3 separate regions of the Homo sapiens genome follow, and all the other regions are linked to region 1. Evidence: fine-mapped expression QTL. A gene starts in region 1. Each other region holds a variant in brackets. All regions are shown on one strand. Distances are from middle to middle. Region 1 holds the start of STK35 (serine/threonine kinase 35). Region 2 has its middle 43 kb from the start of LINC03086. Region 3 overlaps STK35 (serine/threonine kinase 35).

Region 1 (10,248 bases):
ACTTTTCTATTTAATGAGAGAGCTGAACCAGGTTATCTCTACGATTCCTTCCAGCTTTAACATTACTGGGTGGTATTTGCATGCTGTAAACCCAAGGCCCCAGGACAGATCAAGACCCCTAAATTTTGGAATCCAGAATAAGCAAAGTTTAACCTGGAGTAATTTTGGTATCTGTTCTCTATTTTAAGAAGCAAAAATGATTACCTATTTACTACTTGAAAAATCCACACATTGCAAGTCAGCTTGAATGTCATTTTCATAAGCAGAAACAACACATATTTTCTTCACTGCTCTGTCTCTGAGCCCTGAACACCGTAGAGGTTCAAATATTTTAAAGACTCCAAACAACTGAAAGGGACCAATCCAATCCAGTGTACGGCCTAAAGCAAAAGATTTCATTTTTCTAGGTCCCAGTTTTAGTTCACAAAGGGAGGATGAAAACACCAGTGTTTCTGTCAACTTGGTGTGCCTGACAACACAGAAAACAAGGTGTGTTCTATGATGAAACAAGTTTGGGAAACTTGAGCAAGAACAATGTGAATCTTGAAGGGGGTGAGGGTAGAAGAGTACAGAACATGGTGTGAACTTATATAAGGCAGTGAATTCCTCCCTATGTGGAGCACTTGCTGACATTAACAGTTTGCACAGTGACCCTATGTACCTAATGTCATAGGTACATACCCACTATCTTACAATAAAGGAATGCTCCTCACAGGGTTCAAACAATTTGCTCCATGTTTTGTGCAGTCAGTCCTGGGATGAGCCAGAGGGTCTAACCCCAAAGTCCATGGTACTAACCACTATGCTATGCTGCCATGGGGTCACTTTGGAATTTTGACAAATTCTTCAGGTGAGGAAAGTCCACATAGTATTTATATGTTGAGAGAGTAAGCAAGAGCTTCAAGCTGAGGTTGAAGGTTCGAGACTGGCGTCAATGAACTGAGGACACAAGGAATAAACATTCGGCAAGGCAAATTCCTACATCCCAAGGCAATCCTGTAGTAGGAAGTCCAGACCATTCATTGGCAGTAAAGGAGAAGACTAAGAGAAGTCTGAGAATAGAAAGACTTCAAAGTAAGTGATGCGCTCCTAGAATATAGGTAAGATAAACGAATCCCCTAGGGAGTCTTTTTTTTTTTTTTTTGAGACAGGGTCTTGCTCAGTCGCCCAGGTTATAGTGCCATTGCATGATAATGGCTCACTGTAGCCTCAACCTCCCAGGCTCAACTGATCCTCCTGCCTCTGCCTCTCAAGTAGCTGGGACTATAAGCCTGTGCCATCAGGTCCGGCTATTTTTTTTTCTATTTTTTGTGGAGACCAGGGTCTCACTTTGTTGCCCAGGCTGTTCCCAAACTCCTGGGCTCAAGCCATCCTCCCACCTCAGCCTCCCAAAGTGCTGGGATTACAGTCGTGAGCCATTGTGCCCTGCTGGAAGTCTTTTCAAAACAAAAACACTCACCCTGGGGAGAGGGTAGGCTTCTCAGAATGGATGGGGCACGGATGGACTTTATAAAGTTAGACATCTAATTAAAGGACTCTAGGTGATACTGATTCATGTTTCCAACTCCACTGTCAAACAACTGACTTGCAATGGGACAAAGCGTTCTCTTGGGAAAGACTTGGGGGATCTTTAAGTTGTGCAAAAGTAACAAGATTTTGGGAAACCACCCCCTCCAAACTCACCCCAAATCCTACCCACTCTTAAAAAAGTTCATCCTCAGGGTGCAGAGAACAGCATTACGCCTTCGAAAGGATCCAGGCCTCGAATCAAGACAGATCTGGGATCCCCGTCACTTAAGCTCTGAGAAATGTAAGGAAACCAGGAGTACAGTCTAACTTCCCTTTCAAGCGGATTAACCCTGATCAAGTTATTTGTTCACTTCTAAGCCTTAGTTTATTTATAGAAAAAGGATAGAATTTACTTTTGAAGTTATTACCTAAAAATTACTTCAGCACTGAGACCACAGCTGGGACTCGGATTAGTAAACTTTCTTCCCCTGGATCCTCCTGCCTCGGAAAGTCTCCTCAAACTTTCTACCGCCTCTCTCCTCTCCAAGCAGACACTTAGCTACTGGTAGTATGAAAAAGGCTTGTGAGTACTGAGTAGTTAGGATGAATACATTCCCTAACTGCAGTTAAAACCCGGAAACTAAGATAATTAGTTCCTCCAGGACTGCAAGACCTCTTGCCTCAATGTACCCCATTTTCCTTTTAAGTAAAACCACTTCCCAGCCAGCCTCTGAGGTTAAGAAAAAGATTAAGAATGTAAAACGGAGGGAAAAGATGCCGGATGCTTTGTTATGTGACAGCTCTCAGGCCACCTGTGAGGGTTGTCAGCCTGCACCCCTCAGAGGACCAAGCCAGAAGACAGTCAGTTTGCTCGGCTGCCTGGGATGAAGGGCCGGGGGCCTCAGAGGAAAAGGCAGACGAGGAAGCCACAGGAGTTTGGGGGTTGGAGCTGGAGGGTGTCAGGAAACTTGGAACCAGACAGGGAGAGGGTGTGGGTGGGTCCAGTCAAGTTTTTTCTTTTTGTTTGTTTTGGGAGGGAAAGAGAGAGGCCCTCGGGGGTGAGGAGGCTCCGCAGTTCTGCTACTAACTGAACCCGACCCCTCCTCCACTCCCCCAACCGATCTTAAAAATAGAAGACGTTTAATAACCATAGCTCGCAATTCTTGAGCACTTATTAAGTTAATGGTTAGCACTTAAACGAGCTCTTGTTATGGAAACACCAGCCAACTTTAGGCCCAGGGACTGATCTTAGGACCTGAGAAGAGAGGGCCGAATGCCTGGGCCCAGGAAAGGAGGGTGTGTCAGGGCACAGGGTGACAGGGACCAGGTCTGAGGCCTAGGAAGGCCAGGAACAGTGTGGGCCAAGCCGTCCGGAGAGCAGGGGGTCCAGGCCCTGCGTGGGTGGAAAGGCCCGCGGTGCTCCTACCTTTCAGCGAGGTCTCCACCAGGCGCAGGTAAAGCTGCGAGCTCTTGTTGCCGTGACTCATGCGCTGGGCTAACCCATTGCGCTGCAGGACGCACTCCTCAAACTGCACGACGTTCTGGTGGCGCCGCTTGAGGCTGGTGAGGGCCCAGAATTCAGCCAGCGCCAGCTCCACGTTCTCGGGGGCGTCGCAGCGGATCTTCTTGACCGCCACCCGGGCCCCGCTGCGCCCGGCCACTGCCTCATAAACCACGCCGTAGCTGCCGCGCCCGATCTCCGCCAACAGGCTGTAACGCGGCCGCGCGGACCCGCCACCGCCCTCAGGCCGTCGCCGCGCCAGGAAGGCCTCGCCCGGGGCCTCGGCCGCCACCGGATCCATGGCCCGGGCCGCCGCCGCCGGCCTCAGCTTCGTGCTGGGCGCCCGCGGCACTGGGCTTCGCCTTTTCCGCTCCGGGCTTTGTGTACCTCTGCGGGCGCCGTCCTTCCCCGTTTCCATGGCTGCGGGCGGCGGGGGGAGCAGCAACGGCGCTGCCCGGGCCCCCCCTGCCTCATCCCTCCGTCCGGCCCTGGGACGCGGAGGAGCCGGACCTTGGATTGTGACCTGCGGGCGAAAGAATCGGTTAAACGGCCAGGCCAAGGCGGGGAGGCCAGGAGCGTAGGCCGCGGGGCGTCCCACCTCCTCCTCCCCCGGCCGCCGCGGCCCCTTTAAGACGGAAGCCACCGCCGCTGATTGAACGGGGGAGGGGAGGGGAAAGCGGGAAAGACCGAACCACTGGGCAGCAGCTCAGAGGGGGAACCGGAAAGAAAAGCACAAACTCTCCGCTCTCTCTGTTAGCTTGTCATGTAGCGATAGGAAAAAGAAGAGCCAGCAAGCTTCACGCCTTCTGAAAACCGCTTAGAGACGCGATTTGGCCGGCGGAAATATTTTTCTTTGCTTGGCCCCCTCTGTGACGCTCCTCCCCGCGCCCCGCCTTGTGTTCGCCCGGGTGTAAACAGTCCATTGAATTAAGCCCTAGCGGAGCCCAGCGGACCGACCCAAGTCCCCGAGGGCGACGGGTAGAAGGGATTGGCTGAAAAGTTCGGCTTCTCGGAGTGCGACTGGCCGAGGACCCGATTTCCCTTCCCAAGCGCGGAGGCAGTGGCAGTAACTCCAGCCTCGGCGCTGGCCTTCAGTCCTCCAACGGCGCCCTTACCTGGCCCGCGCACCTCCACTTCCGGGCGGCCCGTTTCCCCCCTGGAGCCCCTGCCTGGGGATGGTCCGCTCCGGGCCCGGGCTGCCTCCGGGACCGAGCAGCGCGGGAGGTGGCGGCCCGAGCCCGGCGTGTAGCGGATCCTTCTGCTGCCGCGGCGCTCGCTGGGGAAGCCTGGGCTCCTAGGCTCCCGTGGCTTTCCACGTGTTCGCGCCAGCTGAGCCCTTTACATAACCTCTTTACATAAGCTGCACCTCCCGCCGGCGCCCGGGCCAGCGGAGACTCCTGGTGGCCCATCCCCCGGGACGCCAGCCGAGTGAGCCCTGCACCGCCCGGTCCTGCAAAGGTCGACGGAGCAGCCGCAGCCGAGCGCACCGGCACGCCTTGCCGGGACCCAATCACTGGCGAGAACACCCAGCCAACAAAAAATAGGCGCGAAATTCCCGTGATCCGCGGCGGGCTCCGGGTCTCCGCAGCGGCCCGCGCATCACTATCCCTTCTCGCCTGATCTGCGTGAAGACCAACCGTCCGCAGTAGGCGCCTAATAAATACTGACTGGGTGATTGTCTTGGTCGTTTGATTCATAGCTCTGTCCTGGGAACCTCAGGGACTGGGTTGGAATCCCGACCTTCCCTTCTACCAGCCCAGTGATCTTGTGCAAATCATTGACCCACCCTGAGCATCCGTTTATCTAATGATCCTCTGCAAAATGGATAGAATGGGCTTTAATTCCCAGGAATGATAGACCCAAATGAAATACCTAGATGGAGGCTAATTGGGTGTGGGGCTGTTAGTACCCAAAGCTCCCATTTAGGCACAGATTTTTGAATATTTTGTTCTGTATTTTGTATTCCAGTGTAGGCCTAGTGGGTGCCCAGTGTTTGTTAACTGAATCTACAGATGTTTATTGAACACCCGTAATGTGCTAGGCACCATTCCAAGTCGCTGGGGAAAGAGCAATAGACAAGGCAGTTTCTGCCTTGGTTGAGGTTCTGTGCCACTGCAGGAGACAAACCACATGGGTGGCCTTGGGCAAGTTAGTCAACCTTCTTGTGTATTTGTTCCTTACCTGTAAGAAGATCCACAGAGGTTATACAGGTAAAGCACTTAGGACAGCCTTGCACACAATGTTAAGTATTATTAAATAAATGCACAGGATAATTTTTGCCAGTGGTAAGTGTGATGGAGAAAAAGAATGAGCTAAAGAGTGCTCACTGGATACAGGCCATTTCTTATAATGTATTTGGTCGCTGAAAACCTCTTAACTTTTTTGTGATTAAATTTCAAATTTACACATAAATTTCAAGAATCGTAAAGATCATATACTTTTCCACTAGAATAACAAATTGTTATATTTTGCTGCATATCCATATCCTCTCGTGTATGTGTATATATACACACAAATACATATTGTGTGTGGATATCTATATGGTATATACCCCAAAAGAAAGGAAATCAGTATACGGTATATAGATATTCACACACACACATATATAATGTATATATTCTTTTTTACTACATCATTTTAGAGTTTCCAACATCAAACTCCTTTATCCTAAATATATGTGTGTGTTTCCTTAAAAAAAAGACATTATCTGGCATAATCTCAGTACAGTGGTCAAAAATCAGGAATTTTAACAATGATACAATTGTTTTATTTAATACACTCCATCCATATTTAAATTTTGCTAATGGTCCCAATAATGTCCTTTATAGCTATTCCCCAGGATCCAATTCAGGATCAGACGTTGCACTGAGTTGTCATGCCTCTTTAGTTTCTTTTAATCTGGAAGGGCAGTTAGTTATCCAGCCTTTCTTTGTCTTTCATGACCTTGACATTTTTGAAGAATACTGGCGAGTTATATTGTAGAATGTCCCTAAATTTTTATTCATCTGTGTTTTCTTATTAGTTTCAGAGTATCCATTTTTCTCTCCTCCCCCACCCCCCACCAACCCATCCCTTGCTATTCTGAGAGGGTATGCATTTTTTGGCAGGACTACTGCTGAAAAAAGTTGCCTCCTCAGGGCCTTTCATCAGGAGGCACATGGCATTGTGTTTGTCCCAGTATTCGTGGTGTTAACTTCCATCATTTGGTTGAGGTGGTGTAGGAGTAGTTACACTCTACCATAAAGTTACGATTTTTCCTTCTGTAACTATTAAGTATTCTGTGGGAAGATATTTTGAGACTATTTAAATATCCTCTTCTTTAGACTCTTACCCACTGGTTTCAGAATTCATGGTGATTCTTGCTTGAAACAATTATTACAGTTGCAAAATGGTGATCAGAAGGTCTTTTTAACCATAACCTTTTTTCTATTTCTGTGAAGAATGTCATTGGTATTTTGATAGGGATTGCATTGACTCTTTAGATTGCTTTGGGTAGTATGGACATTTTAACCAATGTTGATTCTTCCTATCCATGAACATGAAATATCTTTCCATTTTTTGTGTGTCCTCTTCAATTTCTTTAATCAGTGTTTTATAGTTTTCATTATAGAGATCTTTCATTTCTTTAAATTAATTCCTAGGTATTTTTATTTATGGCTATTGTAAATGGGATTACTTTTTAAATTTCTTTTTCAGATTGTTCACTGTTAACATATAGAAATGCTACTGATTTTTGTATGTTGATTTTGTATCCTGCAACTGTACGGAATTTGTTTATCAGTTCTAACAGTTTTTTGGTGGAGTCTTTAGGTTTTTCCAAATATAAGATATAATATGCAAACAAGGATAATTTAACTTTTTCCTTTCCTATTTGGATGCCCTTTATTTCTTTCTCTTGCCTGATTGCTCTAGCTAGTACTTCTAGTACTTCTAGTACTGTGTTGAATAACAGTGGTGAAAGTGGGCATCCTTGTTGTATTCCAGATCTTAAAGGCTTTCAGTTTTTCCCCATTCAGTATGGTACTAGCTGTGGGTTTGTCATATATGGCTTTTATTATGTGGGGGTATTTTCCTTCTATTCCCAGTTTTTTTTAGGGTTTTTATCATGAAACCATGTTGAATTTTATCAAATGCTTTTTCAGCATCAATTGAAATGATAGTATGGTTTTTGTCCTTCATTCCGACAGCCTTATTTTATCTTAATTACCTCTTTAAAGACCTTATCTTCAAATATAGGCACATTCTAAGGTACTGGGAATTATAACTTCAACATGAATTTGGAGTGAGGAGGGACACAATTCAGTCCATAATAGCCTCTTTGGCATTTGACATTTGAATTGAAACCTGAATGTCAAGAACCCAGCTCTGAAACCGAATGGGAAGTCATTCCAAGAAGAAAGAAGAACAAGTACAAAAGCCATGAGATGGATACAAGCTTGTGAAACCAGCCATGTGGTAAGATTTTAAAATGGTACAACCACTTTGGGAAAAAAAAAAAAAACCAGTTTGGCAGTTTCTTATAAAGTTAAATATATGTCTACCCTGTGGCCCAGCAATTCCATGGGTCTCAGGTAAATGAAAACTTCTGTTAATAAAGCAACTTGTATAGGAATTCACAGTGGCTTTTCCCATAAGAATTCCAAACTGGAAAATGCTGCAGTGTTCAGCAATAAATGAATGGATAAACAAATTGTGGTATTCCCATACAATGAAATGTTGCTGAGGGTGTGTTGATGGGGGGAGGAATAAAGTATTGATACAACAGCATGTATGAATCAAAATAATTATGCTGAGTGAAAGAGGCCAGGCACAAGAGAGTACCTGCTAGATGATTCTATATACAATTCTTAACAATACAAACTAATTTGTAGTGACAGAAAGCAGATCAGTAGTTGGGGTAGGAAGGGTGGATAGAAAACAAAAGGACATAAAACTTTTTGGGGTGATGGGTTATCTAGACTGTAGTAATAGTTTCAAGATAGGAATATATTAAAACACTTCAAATTGTACCCTTTATATTAGGTGTATTTATGTAAATCAGTTTTACAACTTAATAAAGCTATAAAAAAATTGGAAAAGAACACATACTATAATTCCATTAATATAAAGTCAACCAACAATAGTCTAGAGTGGCAGAAATCGTATCAGTGGTTGTTTTTCAGGTGGGAATTGATTGCTGAGGGCCACAGGGGAATTTTCTGGGTGATGGAATTTTATTGTGTGTAAATTGTACCACGACAAAGTTGAATTAAAACATAAAAAAAAAAAAAAAAAAGCCAAAACCCTGTAGCTGCGAACACTTGTGTCTTTACTTAGAAGTTTCTAAGGACAGAAGGCTGCATTGTGTGGCCCTGGCCCCATTCCTGTATCACTGGCTTCGTAGGTTTAGCACAGCCAGCAGTGTCTTTCCTCCTGGCTAGTTTTCCTATCTGATTTTGTTTTGTTTTGTTTTCTAATACACATATACATGTTTTTATTTTGTTTTTAGGCATCTTACCTATTTATCCATCTATTTGAGAGAGGGTCTTGCTCTGTTGCCCAAGCTTGGAGTGCAGTGGCATGATCATGGCACACTGCAGCCTTGACCTCCTGGGCTCAAGTGATCCTCCCACCTCAGCCTCCTGAGTAGCCGGGACTGTGGGCACATGCCACTAGGATTTTACCATGTTGCCCAGGCTGGTCTCGAACTCCTGGCTCAGCCATCCTCCCACCTTGGCCTCCCAGAGTGCTGGGATTACAGGCATGAGCCACTGCACCCGGCCTATTTACTTTTTATAATTCCAGCTTGTTTTTTTAGATTTTGGGGTACCTGTGCAGGTTTGTTACATGCATATATTGTGTGATGCTAAGGTTTGGGATACAGTTGAGCCCATCGTCCAGGTAATGAGCATAGTAACCAGTAGCTTTTCCACCCTTGCCCTTCCCTCCCCACCCTAGTAATACACAGTGTCTACTCCTGTCTTTATGTCCATGAGCACCCATTGTTTACTCCCACATATAAGTGAGAACATGCGGTATTTGGTTTTTGGTTTTCTGTTCCTGAGTTAATTTGCTTAGGATAATGGCCTCCAGCTGTATCCCCCACCTGAATTTTGAGAGAGATTGAATATGAAGTTCTGGGAGGACCACAAGGAGTGTGAATCCTTTTATATGCTGTTAAGAGGGCTGGACTGCTTGATAAATCATTTGATGCCTTGACCAAATTTTTAGTTTTTGTTTTTGTCTTGCTTAACTTATGGAAGTAACCTATACTTTACTGTTAGGACTAATAGCCAACATTTACTAAAGTTTTCTGTCTGCCAGGCACAGGGATTAACAAAGAATTACGACAATTCCATGAGGTAGTGACTTTCATTAGCCCCATTTTACAGATGAAGAAACCGAATGTGAAGCTGGCACAGCTGGGTTTCAAACTGAGGCCCCAGACACTCCACATCTCTTGATCGCACTCAGCCCCTCCCCAGGCTAAGCAGTGTAAACGTTACAGCGAGCCCTCTTCTACATCTTTCTTGTTGACAAACATGCCTGCCTCAGTATCCCTGGAACCTCAGACAGTACCAAACATCTGACTGAGCTCAATATTTAGTGATAGAAGAAATGTAGAAGAGAAGAGCAGCAGTGAGGTTTTTTGTTTGTTTTTTTAAATGGAGTCTCACTCTGTTGTCCAGGCTGGGGTGCAGTGGCATGATCTCGGCTCCCTGCAACCTCTACCTCCTGGATTCAAATGATTCTCCTCCTCAGCCTCCCGAGTAGCTGGGATTACTGACACCTGCCACCACACCTGGCTAATTTTGTGTGTGTGTGTGTGTTTTAGTAGAGATGGGGTTTCATCATATTGGCCAGGCTGGCCTCGAACTCCTGACCTCAAGTGATCCATCCACCTTGACCTCCCAAAGTGCTGAGATTTCAGGCGTGAGCCACCGTAACCGACCAAGCAGTGAGGTTTTCAGCCCTTTTAGCAGGCCAGGGATGCGGAAGGAAGTCCTTTCTCTGCTGAGCACAGAGAGCTGCATGGAATGTCACATCATTGGTTGTGCTCTCTACACTCAAGGAGTCGCTGACACTGGCTGAATAAAGCAATGGCTACACTTTTACTGTAAGAAAAGTCATTCATTTAACATTTTTTGAACCCTTACTCCTCTATGTGCAAGGCAGTTTGGGAGCTGATGTATGGGGATGAGCAGGAGAAAACTCAGTGTCTGCCTTGAGGGGCTGACACAGACAATATGACAGTGCAG
Region 2 (10,248 bases), 62 kb before region 1:
CCCGGCCTGCCATGCCCCTTTTAGAGATGATCCAGGAGAGGCTGGAAATCCCAATCTGTCACCAGGTTTGGGGCCCAGAGAAGGGGAGGGGCTCAGCAAGACACAGAGCAAATCAGTGGTACAACATGGGCTGTTGAACATAGATCTGATCTCCTAATTCCAATCCCCACTGGCAAGGTGATGCAGACAGCTCAGAGAGGTCAAGGGACTGACTCACGGTCATGCAGCAAGTAAGGGGCAAAGCTAGGATTCCAGCCAGGTCTGTCTATTCCAAGATGACTGTAGCATCCTTTATGTACCCTTGTGATTTCCAGGCGGGACTCCTTGGAGGCTCAGGTGTCTGCAGAAGTGTCTCAGGGCCTCGGAGGGAAGGTAAAAGAGACGCTGATCTCGCAAGTGACACTCTGGTATGCCCTCCTCATCTTCATCTATTTTATTTGGGTCTCACAAGGAAAAAAAGAAAGGCTAAAGTGTTTTGGGGAAATTGATGATCCATTCGGTGCCTTAATTGCATCAACGTGAAAAATCAGGCTCACAGAGGGGAAGCGACTTGCCCAAGATGCACAATAAGAACTGGGAGCCGGCTGGGCGCGGTGGCTCACGCCTGTAATCCCAGCACTTTGGGAGGCCGAGGCGGGTGGATCATGAGGTCAGGAGATGGAGACCATCCTGGCCAACATGATGAAACCCCGTTTCTACTAAAAATACACAAATTAGCTGGGCACGGTGGCATGCACCTGTAGTCCCAGCTACTCAGGAGGCTGAGACAGGAGAATTGCTTGAACCCAGGAGGCGGAGGTTGCAGTGAGCTGAGATGGTGCCAGGGCACTCCAGCCTAGTGACAGAGTGAGACTCCATCTCAAAAAAAAAAAAAAAAAAAAAAAGAACTGGGAGCCAGGATCCCTGACCCCTCCACTCTCCACCATGGGTTCCCATTGCTCCCCATCTTGGGGATTGGAAACAACACGTCCAGAGGACTTACGTGCTGCCAGCTCCTCGATAGGGACTGTGCAGCAGCTACTAAATGCTGAATCACTCCTTTTAAACCGGCATCATGAGACTTCTTTCATCCCCATTCCACTCCCTAAGTAGCATCTCGTCCCTTTTTTTCTCATGCATCTTGGACTTGGTGCACTCAGAAATGACCATGTGATTTATTGATTCACTTATTCATCGCCAGCCTCTCCCCAACTAGAAGGCAAGCTCCAGGGGAGCAGGGACCAAGTCCCTCTTGTTGACACCTGTCTCTGCCTCGCCTGCACTAGGCTTGGCACACAGTAGGTGCGCAGGAAAGGAATGATGAAGGTGGAGCCTCATAACACCGCTAGAGGGGACAGTTGTCATCTTTAGTCACCCAGTATCCTACTCCCCTTCCTAACAGTACCCTGATTTCCACATCCTGTGGAGTCTTAGGGATTTGCTACATCTCCCAAAATAAATTATAGTTCTCCCCTCCCCTGCAGAATAAATTAATAATAATAAATAATAACAATAACACTAACATTTATTGAATGTTTTCTGAATGCCAGGTACTAATGTTCTAAGCACTTTACATAGATATTTCATTGAATCTTTACCATAACCTTACGCCCAGACACAGATGCAGCTCCCAGCTCTCTTTCAGGGAAAAAGCAAGGCTCAGAGAAATGGAAACTTGCTAGCAGGTAGCAGACTGGGATTTGAACCGAGATCGACTGGCTCTGGGGGTGCCAGGCCTTTTTGCTCCCTTGTGAGTGCATTTTCCTTAGGTCCTGCCTCTCACTGCACTCATACAGCCGAAGTGAGATGTGTGACCTCACCATCTCGCCATATGGGACGTTATCGTCTGAGTGGAATGATGAAGGGTGGGAGAATTAGTGGAGATGCTAATCCCATAGTTGGGGTCCTGACAATCAGGTAACTTCTCTTCTGGTTCCTGCCTGATTCCAAGCCTGCCTCTCCAGCCTTTGCCTCAATTCTGTGTTCCCTAATAATCTCCCAATAAATTCTCCATTCTTCCAAGAACCAAAGATTCTAACAGGTACAAGAACAAGAGGGGACGTGTCAGCTCCTATTGTGCAACGAAACATCCCCTAAGTTTAATGGATTAAAACAATAAGCAGACCAGGTGCGGTGGCTCACGCCTGTAATCCTAGCACTTTGGGAGGCCCAGGTGGGCAGATCACCTGAGGTCAGGAGTTCAAGACCAGACTGGCCAACATGGTGAAACCTAGTCTCTACTAAAAATACAAAAATTAGCCGGGTGTGGTGGCGGGTGCCTGTAATCCCTGCTACTTGGGAGGCTGAGGCAGGAGAATCTCTTGAACCCAGGAGGCAGAGGTTTCAATGGGCTGAGATGGCACCACTGTACTTAAGCCTAGGCAACAGAGTGAGACTCCCTTTCAAACAAACAAACAAAAACAATAAGCAATTATTTCTAACGATTCCATGGATCTTCCGGTCTAGACCAGCTCATCTAGGATGGCCTCAGGCATCTGTCTGGCGCAGCCGGGAGGGCTCACTGCTGTCTCATGTGGCCTCTCACCCTCCAACAGGCTAGCTCAGGCTCATTCATGGTGGTCTCAGCGTTCCAAAGAGCGGCGGTGCTTCCAAGCCTCAGCTTGCATTATGTTTGTTATTGTCACCATTGGCCAAAGCAAGTCATGTGGCCATGACCATTGTCGGGGTAGGAAGAGATTTCCAAAGGGCATAGAGAGAGGAAAGGGATCGCGTGACCATTTTTACCATGTACCACTGCTGGGAATTATTAGAGGTGGTGCTGTGCTGATCACTACTGTACAAATGGGGAAACTAAGGCACGGAGCAGGAAAGCGGCTCTGCCAGCAACACATGGTGAGTTGGACACAGAGGGCTTTCGAAACCCTGTGGAATCTCTAACCTCAGCCACTGTTTAAGGCAGGGCTTGGTTTTTCTCACTCTGATGTGAAACAAGCTGGGACAACAATCTCTCTTGCAATAAGGAAAATGCAACAGTGAAACATTTGTTGTGCAAAATTAGAGTCCCATTTCCTGTGGGAAGTGCTGACCTGGGATAATTGCCTTTATGTGCTGAAAAATAAGAGACGGACCTGAAAGTGTTTTCCGGAATCCAAAAGGTGGCTTTCTTTAAAAAATCAATTACCTACTCCCACTTCAGAGAAAACACTTCACAGACGCATTTTACATTGTAAGTAGAATTCAGTGCTCCCGGCTAAAATCTACCTGAAAATTCTCAAGGACTGAGAGGCCAGACAGAGGCCCCCAATTACCTCTGCTACCGACGTTTCAGGCGCAGGACGCAGTGGCCATCTCACTAATGAACTGCTTTTTTCATCCAGAGGAAAACTCAAAAGTGTAAAATAGGCCTCGGACTTGGCTTTCCCTCCCACGCCTGGACTGCAGTCGACCGGGTTGACGCCTCCCTGGCGCGTGCTTGATGGTCACATAGGAAAGACACTGAAGGGACTCCCTTCATCTGGGTCTGCTGCTTCCGCGTCGGGCTCAGGTTCCCTCCTCCTCATTGTGGGGAATTGGCTGATGTTCCAGCAGCACTGGTTTTCTCATCGGTAGAATAGGAGCAGTAACAACACACCTAGCAGCATGCAATCGTGTCACAGTGAGGCTTTCCAGGCTGCAGTATTTTGTCTGAAGGCCAGGACGAGGGAGCTAACATTTGTCAAGCACTTCTTATGCACCTTGGGCCTCCACCTCCCCTCAGTCCCATCTGGGCTCAGTGGGCAGCGAGTGAAGGGTCAGGCTCTGGAGCAGGACTGCCTAGGTTCAAATCCCAGCTCCGCCAGTCACCTGCTGGCTGACTTCAGGCAAGTGGGTTAACATCCGTGTGCTTTGCTTTTCTCATCTGTACAATGGGGTTACCCATTGTGCCTAGCTCCTAGAGCAGATGCCCGCAGTGAGTTGCTAGTACCTGCCAAGGGCTGGGAGAAGCATATGCGTCCTTGTCCCCAGGGGACAGGAGGAGGAGTATGATGGAGGGTGCAGATGGGAGAGGAGGTTAGCTCCACCTTTCACCTATTGAGCTGAGGCACCCTTGGACAGGTGGGTGGAGGTATGGGCACATTTGGGGGAAGCAGGAAGGCACAGATGGGTAAAAGGCGTGGAGATGTCACTGGCCCTGCAATAGGGTAGGGAAAACCGTGATGGGCGCCCCTCTTCTCAGAGGAAAGTGCTATGTGACTCTAGAGAAAACAGTTTGAGATGCTGATGGGGTGGAGGTGAGCCCTGGCCTCAACCACAGCCTCTTTATAAAGGAGGTCTCTGAGAAAGGGAAGGACGACCCTCATGCTGGTGCCTCGACTGAGCCAGCAGCCCTTGGTTCAAGTCATTCCCCACTCATCGAGCCTCAGTTCCTCTCTATTTAAAATGAGGACCACAGTGTGCAGTTTCAGGGGGTGCTGTGGAGATTAGAAGTGTAACCGGTACATCAGGGCATGACACAAAGAAGGTGTTAAGAGTCAACAGCTGTGCTCCTGACACTCCATTCTCCCCTCCTCCCCAGGATGAGGGAGCTAACGTTTGTCAGTCACTTCTTATGCTCCTTAGGCCTTGACCTTTCCACAGTCCCGTCTGGGCTCAGGGGGCAGCAAGTGGAGGGTGAGGCTCTGGAGTAGGACTGCCTAGATTCTATTGTCATGGCCAACCTGTTGGCCACTCCCAGAGCTCTCCAGGCTCTGGCCACTTCTCACGTCTCCACCCTGACAGCCTGGCCCAAGAACCTCCAGCCCTTCCGAGTTCATGGGGCTCCTCCTGGCCCATCTGCCTGCTTCTTCAGCCATCTCCATCCCAATTTATTCCTAATATAGAAGCCAAGGGACCCTTTGAAAATGGAAGCCAGATCCTGCCACTCTGCTCAAAACCCTCAAAAGTACCCCTCCCTACTTGGAGGAAAACCAGGGACCATGCAAAGGACTGCAAAGCCCCTGATCTGACACCTCCGACTTCCCTTCTTCCCCTTGCTTCCTCTGCTGCAGCCAGCCTGGCCTAGACGCCCCCAACCCTCCACTCAGGGCTTCTGAACCTGCTGCTCCCCCTCCCAGCCACCGCCTGGCTCACCCCAACTCCAGTCAGGCCTCTGCTCAGCTGTCACCTCTGCAGGGAAGCTGCCCTGACGGCCTGGCCCTCCATATCCCATGACCTGACTTCTCTCTTCAAAGCTCTCCCTGCCTGATGTATACGTATACGTTTGTTTATGTATATGTATCTCCCTGTACCGGGCTCCATGTGCCAACAAAGCAGGGACTGGAGGGATGGCTGATTCTGAAGCCCCGGGAGCTGGCATGGCCTTGCTCACTGTGGACCCTCAGGGACTGTGACTACAACAATAGCTGTCACTCACTGACCTTTGAGAAGGAGCTGGACTCCTGACATGCACCGTGTCCCCATAACTCTGAGAGGTCAGTGACAGTGCTAGTCCCAGGTGGACAGAGGATGAGCTACCTGAGCCACTCTGTGGGTAGGAGGAGGCATCCGGTTGTGCCCACAGGGGCAGCTCAGGCCATGAGTCCAAGCTCAGGAAAGCTCAGAAGGCAGCGAGGCGGCACCAGAGGGAGCACCTGGAGCCCTGCGCGTGTACAGACGGGAGGATGGAGAGGCTCGGCCTCGCAGGGTCATCACTGCCTGGGTGGGGCTCAGGCCCCAGGCAACAGCATCCAGAACATACCAGGGCCTGGGCTCCTCCCAAGCTCCGAGCGTCACCCATGCAGTCTTCTTTCAGAGCCAGTGGGCCGGGTGAATGGGTGGTGGGATCTGTCAGGGCAATTAGAGAGCACAAAGCTGAAGAGCTGGCAGCTTAGGACATGACCTGGGGAAGTTTCTCTGGGCAAACACAGAATAAAGGCTTTGCCTGCCCCTCACCGCTGTCCAGTGCCAGATTATGTAATGTGTTGATGCTGCAAGTGGCGTCCTCACAGCCCTCTGAGAACTCTGCCTGCACCCCAGGAAATGAGTCCCAGAGGAATGACCCAGCTGGCTGGACACCCTCCAACCTGCCCAACTGACACACGTGCACG[C/T]GCGCGCACACACACACACACACACACATTCACACACAGACACCACTGTCCAAGGGAAAGCAGAAACCTGGCTTTGGAGTCATTCACTCACAAACTCTTTACTGAGCATCTACCATGTACCCTGCACCCTACTAGATGCTGGGGATATGGCAGCGAACACAGTGGATAAAAATGATGCCCCTGGCATGTGGGGGGAGAGACAGACAAGAAGCATGACACGCAGGTGGGATGTCACATGGTGATGTGTCCTCTGGAGAAAAACAAAAACAAAGCCAGCAAGGAAGACAGAGGCGAGGGTGTGGCTGGGCAGACATCAGGGCAGGGGCAGGGGGAAGCAGTGCAGGAGAGTGAACAAGTGCAGGGGCCCTGGGGCAGGCCTGTGTGTCCTTGCCATAACACAGCAGCTCAGGGCAGGGTGGGGGTGTGGGGAGGCTGGAACGGCGTGAGTGAGGGGAGAGGAGAGTAGAGGATGTATGCATGGTGAGGACTCGGAGGGATGGACACCACTGCAGGCTTCCAGCCAGCAGACCTGAGGGCAAGTCTGGTCCTATCAACATGCACAGAGTGGCAGCTGTGGGTCTCTCATCTACAAACAGATCTGGGGGTCCCCTACCTCCTGAGGCCATGCTCCCTCCCATCTGCAGCCTGCCCATCTATTACTTCTCCATATTTGCTCCCTCCTCTGCAACTCACCTATGCTTTCATTCTGAGCTATGGGCAGGAGGAGGTGACCTCCTGCTCCCAGTGGTCCAGGTCCGGCAGGATGGACAGCACCATGGCTGCTGGGAGAAGGAAGATGCTGCCAGGTGGGCAGGAGGGGCCCAGGTACTGGCAATCAAAGGTCAGAGCTGGTAGCTGACTCTTGGAGCTGGAAGGACCCTTCTGGACCAGCCACCCCTACCTTTCCCCTCCAGCTTTTATTTATTTATTTAAATGATGTCTCACTCTGTCACCCAGGCTGGAGTGCAGAGGCACGATCTCAGCTCATTGTAGCCTCCGCCTCCTGGGTTCAAATGATTCTCCTGCCACAGCCTCTTGAGTAGCTGGGATTATAGATGTCTGCCACCATGCCCGGCTAATTTTTGTTTTTTTTTTTTTTATAGTAGAGATGGGGTTTCACCATGTTGGCCAGGCTGGTCTTGAACTCCAGATCTCAAATGATCCACCTGCCTCGGACTCCCAAAGTGTTGGGATTACAGGCGTGAGCTGCCACGCCCAGCCTGCCCTCTAGCTTTTAATTTGAATATTTTTGTACTACAGAGAAATTAAAAGAATCATGCAATGAATACCCTTACACCCTTCGCCAAGCCTCCCTAGTTAGCATTTTGCCACATTTGTGCTGTTCTCTTGGTAGGCAGGTATGTGGCTGGGGTAGGGCAGGGTGGGAGAGAGCGAGAGAGATATCATAAAGCTTCACCCCTAAAAACTTGGGCATGCATCCGTGTATCAAGCAGAATACTACAACAAGCGGCATTCTCCCACACAACAAAAATACTAACTAAATACCAGAATAACCAAAATGTTTAACATTGTTACAAGGCTGTCCTCATACAGCTCATATTCTAGTTCCCCAAATGTCTCGATAATGTCCTTTATAGCAGTTTTACTTTTATTCTTTTCAGTACGGGATTCCATCAAGGATCAGGCACTTCCTTTGGTTGTTACATTCCTTTAGGGTCTAATCTGGAATGAATAGTCCCCACTGTACCATCGCCCCCACCTTTTTTTTCCTTTCATGACATTGACATTTGTAAAAGAGACAGCCCAGGTGTCTTGTAGAATGTTCCTCAATTTGGGTGTGTCTGATTGTTTCCTTGTGATTAGACTTGGCTAAGCATTCTGGGCACGAGATCTGCAGAGGGGAGGCTGTGTCTCCCATTGTGTTATATAAGGAGGGGCCTCCTGCCAGTTTGTCTCATCATTGGTAATGCTAAGGTGTGATCATTTGACTAATGTGTTCCCGAAGATCTCTCCATTATAAAGCTAATCTTTCCTTTTGTACATAGTAATTCATCTGTGTGATGAATTATGATATTTGAGATATGTGAGTACCTGTTTCCTCACGAATTTTCACATAGTGATTTTAGCAGCTATTGATGCCTTGCCTGAATCAATTATTGCATTAGTAGCTGCAAATAGAGATTTTTCCCATTATCCTTTCTATGTTCTTCTGTAAAGCTTTCCTCTCCCTTCCCTCTCCCCTGCTTTCGTAGTATCATCATACACAGATTAAAAAACTATTATTATTGTTCGATGTGTTGTAAATCCATTATCATCACTGTTCTTATTTGACGCTCAAATTGTTCCAAGTTTGGCCTCCAGGTAGGGGCCCCTTCAGGTGAACTCTTATGTCCTTCCTACTTTTTAAAAACAATTTGATTGAGGTATAGTTGACACACAATGAATTGCCCATATTTTAATATACGACTTAATAAGTTTTGACATATGTGTACACGCATGAAATCGTCACCGTATTCCAGGGAGTGAACACACCCGTCACAACTAATTCTCCTCAGGTATCTTTGGTTTTTTGTTTTGTTTTGAGACAGACTGTCACTCTGTTGCCCAGGCTGGAGTGCAGTGGTGCGATCTCAGCTCACTGCAACCTCCGCTTCCTGGGTTCAACTGATTTTCATGCCTCAGCCTCCCTAGTAGCTGGGACTACAGGCGCCTGCCACCACGCCCCGCTAATTTTTGTATTTTTAGTAGAGATGGGGTTTCACCATGTTGGTTGGTCATGCTGGTCTCAAACTCCTGGCCTCAAGGGATCCACAGGCCTCGGCCTCCCCAAGTGCTGGGATTACAGGCGTGAGCCACTGCCCCCGGCCCTCCTCGGGTATCTTTGTCATATTCCCCTGCAGCCCTTCACCATCTTGAAGGAACCACTGACTTGCTTTCAGTTACTATAGATTGGTTTGCATTTTTTAGCGTTTTATGTAAATAAAATCATACTCTTTGTGTCTAGTTCCTCTCCCTCAGCATTGTTACTTTGAGACTCACCCATGTTACTGCATGTATGCCTAGTTTTCCTTTGTGTTCTTGAGTAGCATTTGGCTGTGTGGATATACCACAATTCTTTTATCCATGCATTGATATGCAGATGGACAGATGGGTTGTTTCCAGTTTGGGGCTATTATAAATAAAGATGTACTTATCTAAGTCTTTGCATGAACATGGATTTCCTTTTCTTTTGAGTAAGTACCTGGAAGTGAAATGGCTGGAGTTTATGGTTAATTTTTAAGAAATTGCTGAAGTGTTTCAAAAGTGGTAATACCATTTTCCATCCTACCAACAGGGCATAAGAGTTCCAGTTCTTCCTCCTACTTACCAACATAGGTGTGTAGCAAGTAGCACCTTATTGGAGATTTAATTTGATTTTTTTTTTTTTTTTTTTTTGAGACGGAGTCTTGCTCTGTCACCCAGGCTAGAGTGCAGTGGTGTGATCTCGGCTCACTGAAACCTCTGCCTGCCAGGTTCCAGCAATTCTCCTGCCTCAGCCTCCTGGGTAGCTGGGTTTACAGGTGCATGCCACCACGCCCAGCTAATTTTTGTATTTTTAGTAGAGGCGGGGTTTTACCATGTTGGCCAGGCTTGTCTGCAATTCCTGCCCTCAGGTGATCCACCCATCTCGGCCTCCCAAAGTGCTGGGATTACAGGCGTGAGGCACTGTGCCCGGCCTAATTTGATCTTTAAATTTAAATTTAAAATGTTTACAACTTAAGTATAAAACAATTAAATTTAAATTTAAAACTTTTCAATTTAATTTTCCTTGATGGCAAATGATGTTGAGCATCTTTTTATGTGCAGTTTGCCATGCTTATGGTCTCTGGTGACATGTCTATTCAAATCTTTTGCCAGCTTGCGGGGGTGTTTTATTATTATTCAATTTTGACAGTTCTTTATATTCTTGATACAAATTCTTTATTAAATACATGCTTTGTAAAGATTTTCTCCCAGTCTGTTTTGTCTGTTTATTCTTTTAACAGTGTCCCTTGAAATGCAGAAGTTTTTAGGTTTTTTTTTTTTTTTTTGAGATGGAGTCTTGCTCTGTCTTCAAGCTGGAGTGCAGTGGCACTATCTCGGCTCACTGCAACCTCCGCCTCCTGGGTTCAAGCGACTCTCCTGCCTCAGCCTCCTGAGTAGCTGGGAGTACAGGTACGTGCCACCACGACCAGCTAATTTTTGTATTTTTAGTACAGATGGAGTTTCACCATGTTGTCCAGGATAGTCTTGATCTCTTGAC
Region 3 (10,248 bases), 41 kb before region 1:
CTAGGAGGGAAAACCAGCCAAGGGGAGGGATAGTCTGAGACCAACCTAGAGTAAGTGCCACCAGCGCCCCCAGATGTCGGGGGAAGAGGGGCGTATGGGCAGGATGGAAAGTGGGAGCTGCACTTGGTGGGCAGGGCTGGAAGGAGCCATATGGAACCAGGCAAGGGCAGAACGTTAGGGTCCCTCCTTAGGGGGTGGCAGCCTGACTCCTGCTTTTCTAAGTTTCCAAAAGATACCCCAAGGCTAAAACCCAGACATCCATCCTATTAGGATGTCTTCTAAGAAGGTAAACAGCTAACAGCATAAAAAGAAAATTCCCACAATGCCAGCTCTTTTCCTTCTCTTAGAAAAAGATTCAAGCAAAAATAATCATCTTATTGCTCCAAACACTGGTTTTCTAGGCTAGGAGACAACTGATATGTTAAGGAGCTGAGATCTTGGAGGAGGGGAATGTGGAGGTGGGGAATGTGCAGGGCGAGGAGGCCGTAGGGAAGGCGGGGAGTGGTCCTAGCACCACAGGGTTGGGAGCAGAGGGAGCGGAGGGCGTTTGCCCCTGCCCCGGGCATCTCTGCCCTCATTCGCTCTGGGGCCCCCCGGCAGTGCCACTAAGGAGGCCAGGCCCTGTCCAGAGTCAAATCTCCACTCAGTGTTGGGTGTTTCTCCTCTGGCTGTAAACAGGGTGTTTCTTAAGTAAACATTTAGTATACTCCCTCAGAAAGGCAGCCACAGGGGCAAACTATGTCCAGGTGGGAGGAAAAAAATTCCCATTCTCCTGATCCAATGCCTCTGGGACGAGACGAGGCTAAGGCCTGCAACCTTAGTCCCCAGTGCCCAGAGAAGGTTCAGACGGGGCCAGTCTCGAATGAACAGACTGAGGCATCCTCCTGGCTAGAGGTAAGAGGCAGAGAGTGTGCACCTGTCCAAAGCACAGTTTTTCTGTCCTGGGCTATAGCTGCGAGTGAGTGCCCTGGTGGTGGTGGGGAGATGCGGACCTGGCTACAGCCCTCAGGAAGAGGGTGTTGGGGGTGAGGGTGATCCCTCCCCCGTGGCTCTCTGGGAATGAGAGAGAGAGTGAAAGAGCAAGTGACAGAGGACACAGATAGGGAGAAAGAAGCCATGCACTTCCAGCTGAGCCAGGAGGCCTGGCCAGGGGAGGACAATGGAATAAGGCACTACGATCTGTCCTGCTGATTCTTCTGACGGGAAAACCAAGTTCAGATCCCTAACAGCCGAGGTCAAGAGTCCCCCTCCAAAGGGCTATCCTTGCCACAGAGCCGAGGAGAACAAATGACTGCCGTTTGAAGTTTTGAATACTACTAGAACTTGGGCAGGTCCTACAAACTTGGTGGTGTTGAGACGATGCACCAGAGAGCTGCTGGCAGCCTGAGACCCAGTGAAGACGCAGGAGGGGGGACGTGACAGTGAGTGGAAGCTGGTCCACAAGGGGACAGTGGAGAGTGGCACTGAAACTACAGGTGCTACCCGGGGCTGAGCCACGGCCAGTTCTCTCACCACGGCGGAGCCCGCTGAGTGCCTGAGGTGGGCAAGTGTTTGAGAAAGCAGGGGAGGGGTAAGAAGCAAGGGCAGGCACTTGGGGCTAAAACGCTGGCCTGCATTTATGCTATGGAAAGAGGTCGTGCCACTAAGCAAGAACTGGAAGATGAGGGGGCATGGAGGCTGGCGACCCCTACCAGGCTGCCCACCTGTCACCTACAGGGGTGCTGTTTCTTGCTACTCTGATAGCAAGAAAAATAACAAAGGGGGAGCACGATGGCTCCAAGAACTTTTTAGTTAGAGCTACTAGACCTGGGGAGGGAAAAAAAAGAAAATAAGGGGCTCATTAGGCTGGAGCCTCACTAGGGATGTTACAGTGTGGGCTGCAGCCAGGGAGAGGGGGGTGCTGGGTTTGGGGACTGTTTTTGCCCATTTGCTCATGTACAGAGAGACAGCTGCCCCCAAGGAAAGGCAGGGTGGCGGGCGGAAAAGGAACCGTGTACTGCAATTAGGGGATGCTGCTGTTCCCACCCTCTCGGATACAACTCAGTGCACTCAGGAGGCTGCCTGAGAAGTCAGAGACAGGAGAGACAGGCAGTCACAATGGGTTTTGGCTTAGGAAGGGAAGGGCCTGGTTATCACTGTGGGATCCTGCTAACAGCAGCCAACCTTCTGCTCACAAGGAAGAAAGTTTGGTGTTGAGGGGGGTGACAGAAGGCTGAAAGAATGTGAGCAAACATATTGCTGAGCCTGGCCTGATGCACTGTTCTCTCCCAAATTCTCAGGGCCAAAGGATTGCCGCTTAGCAGGTAAAAGCCCCTGCTGCCTTGGTCACATAGAAACGGAAATGCCCGCCAACCGTCTCCCCTATCAATCCTATGCTGGTTTAGGTGAAACAGAAAACAAAAATGAACACAAAATGATTCCCTTCCCCCTCCCCAGTGGCCCTATACTATTTGGCCATAATGGGGTGAAAAGCCTTCGGAGTGGCCAGGCGCGTCCAGACAGAGGGACAACACAAGAGCATTGCCCCTTCTTGCAGGGGGAGAACAGATGGGCTCAGAGCAGCAGCCCAGGGGGAGGGAAGCTTCCCCTAGGGAGGTGCGAGAGTGTCGCTGGAGAGTGCAAGGATGGCTGCAGCAGACAGGCATGGGTGGCGGGGCTGAAGTGTCATGGCTGGGGAAGCCTGAAGGTGGCGAGCCCACAAATGGGCCCCTAACGCTGCAGGGGGTCTACCCAGTTCCACGACACCTCCCTGCTCTGGGCAGGTCCGCTGTTTTCCCATTGGATACGTCTATACTGAGGGCAGGCACCTAACAGTAAGTCTCCAGGGGTGAGGGAAATGGCGCTTGACAGTGTGTGTCACTGCATATGACACCATGGACCCCGGCACACAGGGCACGCCCTTCACTGTGAGAACACGACAACGGCAGCCAGTTCAGGACACCCTGTTATCATGGCAAAGTCACAACCAGATCTTAGGGCCTCAGGCCGTCTCTGTGACACCTGGACACTATGGGACACATCTGGGAAGATGACAATCCAGGAGGCAGTTAGGTGAGAAGCGCTGACCTCACGGCAGTGACAGATGCCTGCTGAAGACCCAGCTGTGTTCCACACAAGAGTTTGGCACAACAGTTTTTCCCAACAGAAAGGCAGGGATGGCTGCTCCACCGCCAGCAAGAGCGAGATGGTCGCCCTCCACCCTTACCTCCTAGTTCCCTGCAACACAGGGCAGAAGAGGAATGGATTCCCACCACTGCAAGTCCTGGTGTGGCCTGGGGCTCTCAATAGCTTAAACACAACAAAGCCTGGAGTTGAGACCTTCTTAGTTCTCCTGGCCAAACCCTGGCCTTCCTCTTCCAGGCGGTTCTTCACCTCTGATCATCTCCGAGGCCCAAGGGCTAGCCAGGGCCAGCCCACCAAGGAGTCCAGGAGTTCCTGCATCTGGTAGGGAGGCGTGGCCCAGAGGCCTCCTTGTGTCCTCACGCCCCGTTCCAGAAGAAACCCCCAGATTCCCTATGGGGAGGCAGGCCTTCTCTAGGGAAGTGAGGTGTCATAAGTAGAACTGAGAAAAGTATAAAGAAGGAAGACAGAGGGAAAGTGAAGGACAAAACCAAAAATAGCTCCCTAACCCCTTATAAAAAGTAAAAGTGAAATTTACACATATGCCTTGCCCACATTGAATTTCTTTAAAGAAATTGGTGCCTGTCCACAGCATTGTGTCCTGCTCTTCTGAAGTCTCAATGGTTTAAATTTAAAAAAAGGAAAGAGGAAAAAAAAAAAAGAAAAGAAAAGGAAAAAAATAAAGCAAAACTAAAAAGAAGCGGGGAAACCCAAACAAAAGCTTCACATTGCCGGATCCAGCTGTCGGGAGATCGCCAACCGGCCAGGCCACCACCTGTACCCTCTGCCGTCCTCTGGAGGAGACGTGGTGAGACTGTGGGTCCCGAGGAATCGACCTGGAAGACAGAAGGCGGGTAAGGAGGGGACATTGGTCAGCAGGCCTGGGCACCAGCCCTCAACCCAGAGGAACACTGAAGCTGTGTGTGCTGGGGGCTGTGGGGCAGAGCTCTAAAGAGATGGGGTAAATCTAGCTTCACAACCTCCCTGGTCTTATTCACACATGCTTATTTTTCAGATAGGGAAACTGAGGCTCAGGTTAAGTAACTTACCCAAGGGCACACTGACTAAGGGGCAGACACTAGCTGGGAACCCAAGCTTGCTGGCTCTAGCTGTCAAACCAATCTTGAACCCTGGCTTCCCCGTACTATTAGGAGCAAGACACCGCAGGGCCCACCCTGGATAGTCTGTCCCCACAGACCTTGCCAGCACTGCTTCCACTCATGCTTTCTTCCCCACTCTCTGTGATTAATTGTGCTGTTTGTTAGAAACGCCACAGCAACCCTCTCTAGGTTCAGTAATCCTGTTTTACAGAAGAGAAGAGTGAAGCTCAGGCCTCTGAGAATCCGAACCAGGCTACCTGCTCAGGTCTTAACATGGGCCAGAATCCCACACCCAGGGGCAGGGCTGGACTGGGCCTGCACTGTCTGCTGCAGTGCACTGTGGGGGTTAAGAACGAGGGCTCTGGAGCCAGAACGGGCAACTGAGTAAACAGGAGCTGCCCCTCGACTGTGGGGGAATTTAAGTCCTCTGTTCCCTGGTCTCATCACCTGTACCTGCGTCACAGGCTATTATGAAGATTAAATGAACGTAAAACCAAGAAGAGTGCCTGATCCTATTAGTGTTGGCTATTATTTGGAAACTGCCTTAGTGCCAGGCCTCAGGAATAAGACAAGAAGCCTGCCCTTCAGTGGCTTATTCTACTGGAGGCCTAGAATACAAGGGCCCACAGAGATTAGTCTTGGGCAGCGCCCACTCTGAGCTATCGGATCAGTGCTAAGTATAGCGCTGTCCTGGGCAGGGCGGGCCATCTAGGGCAACAGTGCTCCAGCCTCGTTGCACATGGAATCATCTAGGAGGTTTTTTGAGACAGGGTCTTGCTCTGTCACCCAGGCTGGAGTACAGTGCCTTGATCACAGCTCACTGCAACCTTGAACTCCTGTGCTCTAGTGATCCTCCCACCTCAGCCTCCTGAGTAGCTGTGACTACAGGGCACATGCCACCACGCCAGGCTAATTTTTATATTTTTAGTAGAGACGACGTTTTGTCATGTTGTCCAGGCTGGTCTTGAACTCCTGGGCTCAAGTGATCCACCTACCTTGGCCCATCTAGGAGTTTTTAAAGTGCCCGAATGACCAAAGCAGACAAGTCTTTCACTGTGCGTGCCTTTCTTTGTCAGGCAGAGCCAGCACCGTGGCTGCCATGACTTGCCACCTGTGCGGGCTGACAACACCAGCTCGTTGTCCTCAGCTCCTGGGAAGGGACCTGGCCAGTCCTCCCAAGAGGCAGCAGGATAGGACAATATTGGATAATTTACTGTCTGTTGGCCTCAGTTTCTCCCTCTGAGCACTGGGGACTCTTGGTTGAGGTCTGGGTGGAATGACTCAGGTTCCTGGCCCACAGCAGGGACAAACATACTCAATGACTCTACCCCTTCCTGGCCAACTGTCCCCAACCAGAGACTATAAACGTGTTAAATCTGAACAGGCCATGGTTCTCAGCCACGCAACCACTGAAAGTGTTTCTGGCTGGTGAGGGTGCCCCGCACACTG[C/A]TGGAGGAGGGGATAAGGCTTCTGGAAGGTAGTCTGGCACTGTTTTTAGGGCTTCAAAGGTGTTTAGATTGGTAGCTCCCTGAAATTCTACTCCTGAAAGCCAAGCTTAACAGATAAACCTAAATATGAAAAGAACTTTATGGATAAAGAAGTTCACTGAAATATAACAACTCACAAGTCCAAAAATAAGGATTAAGTAAGCAAATGATCCTTCAACGCACTGATATACTACAGAGGAAATGAGATCATTGCATGACATTTTGAAGATTATGACAAAAGCACTTCCCTGGGGTAGGTGGAAAAGGGTAGGTTACAAAGTTGTGTAGCGCACAGCATGACCATAACTATGTAAAAACACAAACCCCTCAGTGTAGGAAAATCTGACAATAAATACACCAACATGTTGTGCTTGTTGTGACTGGATTTTCCTCTTCCCTCACTTCTGATTTTTAATAATGAACACACACCAATGTTATATTTTAGTTTTTAATAGGAAAAATAGGGTACTTTAATGAACAAGAAAAGCTGGCAGCTCCAATAGAAAGGTCCAGATGTGGGGTCTTGTCTGGACTCTTCCATGCCCAGTGGACAAAGGAGAGCTTCCACACTGCCAAACGGGAGGTTAGACTATGTGACTCCCTGCTCTACTGCCCAGGGAGCGGGTGACCAAGAAAGTGGGTGTGGCTGATCTGGAAAGAAAATACAGGATTTCTCGGGCCCAGTCTTTCACTCTGCTGCTTCTGTTCCTTGGTCTGTTAATTCCCCTCAAAAAAATCCACTTGTGGGTCTTGTATCCCAGTTTTTGACTTGGAAAAAGAAAATCATCATAAACATATTCCCTGATGATTCAGCAGCCATCTCAAACTCTAGCTCTATTTAGCATGCCTATTGCTTTCTCTCCGTGCTTTCCGTAGACACAGCAGATCAACCTGAAGATGGGGGAAGAGGGTATTTAGGGTAGGCCCTCACCATCTGAGACATTAAGACCTTGTGAAATACGATGAGAAATTATACAGCCACATGTGATGTGCTAAAATAATCTTTGGGACCAGTTATGACTTTCCAGCATTCCTTTCCTCCCTCCCTGCGGACAATCTCCTGAAAAGGATGCCCATCAGCAGGAAGGTAGCATGTGGCAGCTGAAAAGCAGTGTTGGCAAGGAGGCAGGTTCAGAAACCAGAGGTTCCTTTTTACATAATAAACTAGCAGAACACAGTGTGACTACAGAAGGTCAGACCAACAGCACAGCACTCTGCAAGAACTCCTGAGACACCAGCTTGTAATGACCGCTGTAATCACTGGGTCCCATGCCAGGAAGTGAAGCTGACATTTCCCAAAGGCTCCTCCCTGCTCCCTCTAGCTCTGGCACTGGCTCTGGCCCTCCTGTTGGAAGCCTCAGAACAGCCTACAGGTCTGAGTCTGGTTCTCTCTTGTGGGCACAAAGAAGGAAAATAAGAGGGCTCTCTACTGGGGAGAGGATCTTGGCTTGGGGTTCTTTTCCCATCTGCCATCACAGAAAGAGCATTTTTCCCAGGGAGCTAACAGCACAGTAAGCTCACCGAAGGTAGTGGAGGCGCTTTCTGTAGCTATGAACAGGAATGGCTCAGACCACATGGTTCTGAGTTTAAGCACAGACCCTCCCAGGTACTTGTGGGCACAATAAAGGGTGTAGGTCTCAGCCCCAGTGGGCCCTTGGGGAGGCCTTAGGCTTGTGGTGCTTCATCCTAGCAGATGCCACATCTCAGCTCCCTGACTGCTCAGGCTGTGCCTGACTGCCTGGCTACCAGCTTCTACCGGGGCTCTTCTCATTCCTCTCTGTGGAACCCCTACCTCTGACCAGAGCCCGCTCCTTGAGGGCAAAAATCACACCTGCTAAGCATAATGAAAAGTGGTGATGTGATAAACCTGCAACTGACATCTGTAGTGCCCTTCCATGATTACTGTGAGGAGGGATTTGGCCAGTTTTCACAAGAAAACAGGCCCAGAGAAATGGAGCAACTTGCCCCACACCAGAGTTGCTGAGCAGTAGAACCAGCACTTAATCCAAAGTTTTCCAGCTTTACTACCCAAAGTCTCTGCACTATGATAGTCTTCAATCAGTGCTTCCAAAGCCGGCTCAGCAATGGTTCCAGTAGCTTGCACCTGAGATGACCTTGGGGGTGGAAGGTGTCAGTGATCTGGGAAAATGTGCTATGAATCCTTACCTTTCTCATTTCAGCTCTTGGACCAAGTTCTCTCAGTGCACCCCACCTTCTTATTTCTCTGTAACTGGCGTAACAGCAATCACTTATTGAGCAGTCTGTCTGTGCAAGTTCTAACTGTGTTATAGGCAACAACCTCGTAAAGCAACACTGCTTTCCAATCACTGTTAAAGGATCGAGTGTTTTACATCCATTGCCTCATTTCACCCCAGCAACCCTAAGAGGTAGGGGTTATCGTCCCCCTCGTCTTAGAGATGAGAAAACTGAAGCTCAGAGAGAACAGCCTCATAGACAGTAAGTGGTAGAGAAAAGGGTTTAACTCAGGGCAGTCTCACTCCAAATCCCCTGCTTTTGACATGTAACGATGCAAAATCCCTTCCTAGAGAAGACAAGAAGAGTCTTAAGTGGAGTTTAAAACCCATCTAATCCCTTCATTTATAAATAGACTCACTCAGAAAAAAGGCTCATGGAAGGCTTACGTGCCTGTGCACAGGTCTAGTGCTCGGGGGACAAAAGGGGACATGGTGCCAACCAGGCAGTGAACGGTCTTCCAGCAAGCTTCTCTGCCAGTCAGGCAGGTGTCTGGTCTGTTTAAGAAGACTGAGAAACTGAACTACTTTCATGAAGGCCATTAGCAGCTTGGAGAACAGAAGCCTGGGAGATATGAGGGGAACATGCACAGCAGGATGGGGCTGGAGACAAGGATGGCTCACGTGTTCACCTCCTTCCCCTACTCCTCAGCCTGCAGGCACAGAATACCTTGGTGATTATCCCTTACTCTAAAAGGATGGCCTTCCTACTTTATTAGTGTCAAAATGTCATTACCTTTTGCTTTCTTTTCTAAGACACAGGGTCTCACTCTGTCACCCAAGCTGGAGTACAGTGGCACAACCATAGCTCACTGCAGCATTAAATTCCTGGGCTCAACAACCCTCCTGCCTCAGCCTCCTGAGCAGCTGGGATTATAGGTACATGCCACTACACCTGGCTAGATTTAATTTTTATTTTTGTAGGGACGGGGTCTCATTATGTGGCCCAGGCTGGTCTCAAACTCCTGGCTTCGCTCATGCAATCCTCCTGCCTTGGTCTCCCAAAGTGCTGGGATTATTACAGGCATGAGCTACCATGCCTGGCCTAAAACATCATTTCTTTGATGAAATGATGATGAAAGTAAGTAGGAATGGTTTTAAAAATTGCTTCCCTCCTGGACCTGCCTCCCCAGTTTTTAAAATTGCACCATCTTAGGAAATGTGGAAGTCTGGTAACCACGAGGTTTATCGTCACTCCAGTGCTCCCTCAGGGAAGAACACAGGCTCTATGGCAGACAGTCCTGGTTCAAATGCAAGCTCTGCCATTTACTAGCTACTTCCATGATCTCCTTCTCCTAAACTAGAAAATGGGCATGGAACTCTTTCCTCTTCAGGGGCCTGCTGTGAAGAGTGAAGAATTCTTCAAGTAAATTGCCTGTCATGGCACCTGACCCAGGGTGGGGCATTCAGTAAGATCGATCTTGCTGTCATTCATGTTAATGGTCATTTTGGTTCTTAGGGTATCACAGACTGGGACTTCAAACCCAAAGCCCAATTTTCTCTTTCTATCCTGACTCTCAGATTTAGTTAATAGAAAAGAAAGTCATCCCATTGGCATACTCATAGACTAAGGTACAGTATAAACTCAAAGTGGGGTATTATTGGGTGGCTAGCCAAGAATTCACTCCTACCTAAATTCACCCGCAGTCCTGTGTAGTGGCATTATCACTGTAGCTAATGATACCTATGACATGCTAGCTGCCGTGCAAACTGAATATGCAACACCTCATTTGTCCAAAGGACCATGTAAGAATTATCCTCATTTTACAGATGAGCAAACTGAGGCTCAGGTTATTAATTTTCAGCATATCGTGCTGTGGAGCAAGCAGGCCTCACAAGTGCACAGAGGCAAAGTCATCTGTCAGGGTCACAGACGGCAGTCCTCTCCTTCCTCTAAGTGGGGTTAGTCATTCTTCACTTGTTTAATACACCAAAGCATCTGGCTTTTCACATTCAGACATCAACATGCCAGCCCTGGGGGTTCGGTGGCCCCAGCACGAATGTCTCCTCCAATCACTCAGAGGCACCAAGGCCAGGGAGTCACGCTTCCTGATGCATCATTCCTCTAAGGCTGCACTCCCAACTGTGGTGCTTAAAGTAGGGCAAAAACAGGGATGACTGTGCTGTGAACGTGCCTGTTGTCAGGGTCGAAGGAATGGGAGTACTGACAAATGGGATAACACTGTTTTCAGTCTTCGGGTATACAGAACGGGCAAAATGTTAGGAAAAAGAGGAGCAAGAGGGCAGAGATTATACAACATATACAACAGGAGCTTCGCAGTGCTCCAT

The links. PIP is the estimated chance that this variant, and not a neighbour inherited with it, causes the effect.
Region 2: its variant is fine-mapped to the expression of STK35 in whole blood (INTERVAL, PIP above 0.99).
Region 3: its variant is fine-mapped to the expression of STK35 in whole blood (TOPMed, PIP above 0.99). The same link has a PIP of 0.9 or more in esophagus mucosa.

Annotation. Positions count from the first base shown.
Region 1 is chr20:2,096,053-2,106,300 of GRCh38, reverse strand. It overlaps STK35 (serine/threonine kinase 35), which reads right to left and starts at 4,474. Exons shown (of 4, transcript NM_080836.4): 1 at 4,126-4,474; 2 at 2,936-3,533. The coding sequence starts at 4,419. RefSeq lists silencers at 3,059-3,108, 3,129-3,658, 3,949-3,998, 4,009-4,298, 4,399-4,588 and an enhancer at 2,745-3,713.
Region 2 is chr20:2,158,344-2,168,591 of GRCh38, reverse strand. No RefSeq gene overlaps it. Among named protein-coding and RNA genes, the nearest start is that of LINC03086, 43 kb to the left of the region's middle. RefSeq lists an enhancer at 5,038-5,538. The variant C/T (reference allele first, on the strand shown) is at 6,006.
Region 3 is chr20:2,137,492-2,147,739 of GRCh38, reverse strand. STK35 (serine/threonine kinase 35) reads right to left here. Exons shown (of 4, transcript NM_080836.4): 4 at 1-3,956. It overlaps LOC124900458 (a long non-coding RNA gene), which reads right to left. Exons shown (of 2, transcript XR_007067499.1): 2 at 6,142-10,248. Among named protein-coding and RNA genes, the nearest start is that of STK35, 41 kb to the right of the region's middle. RefSeq lists an enhancer at 1,380-2,043. The variant C/A (reference allele first, on the strand shown) is at 5,670.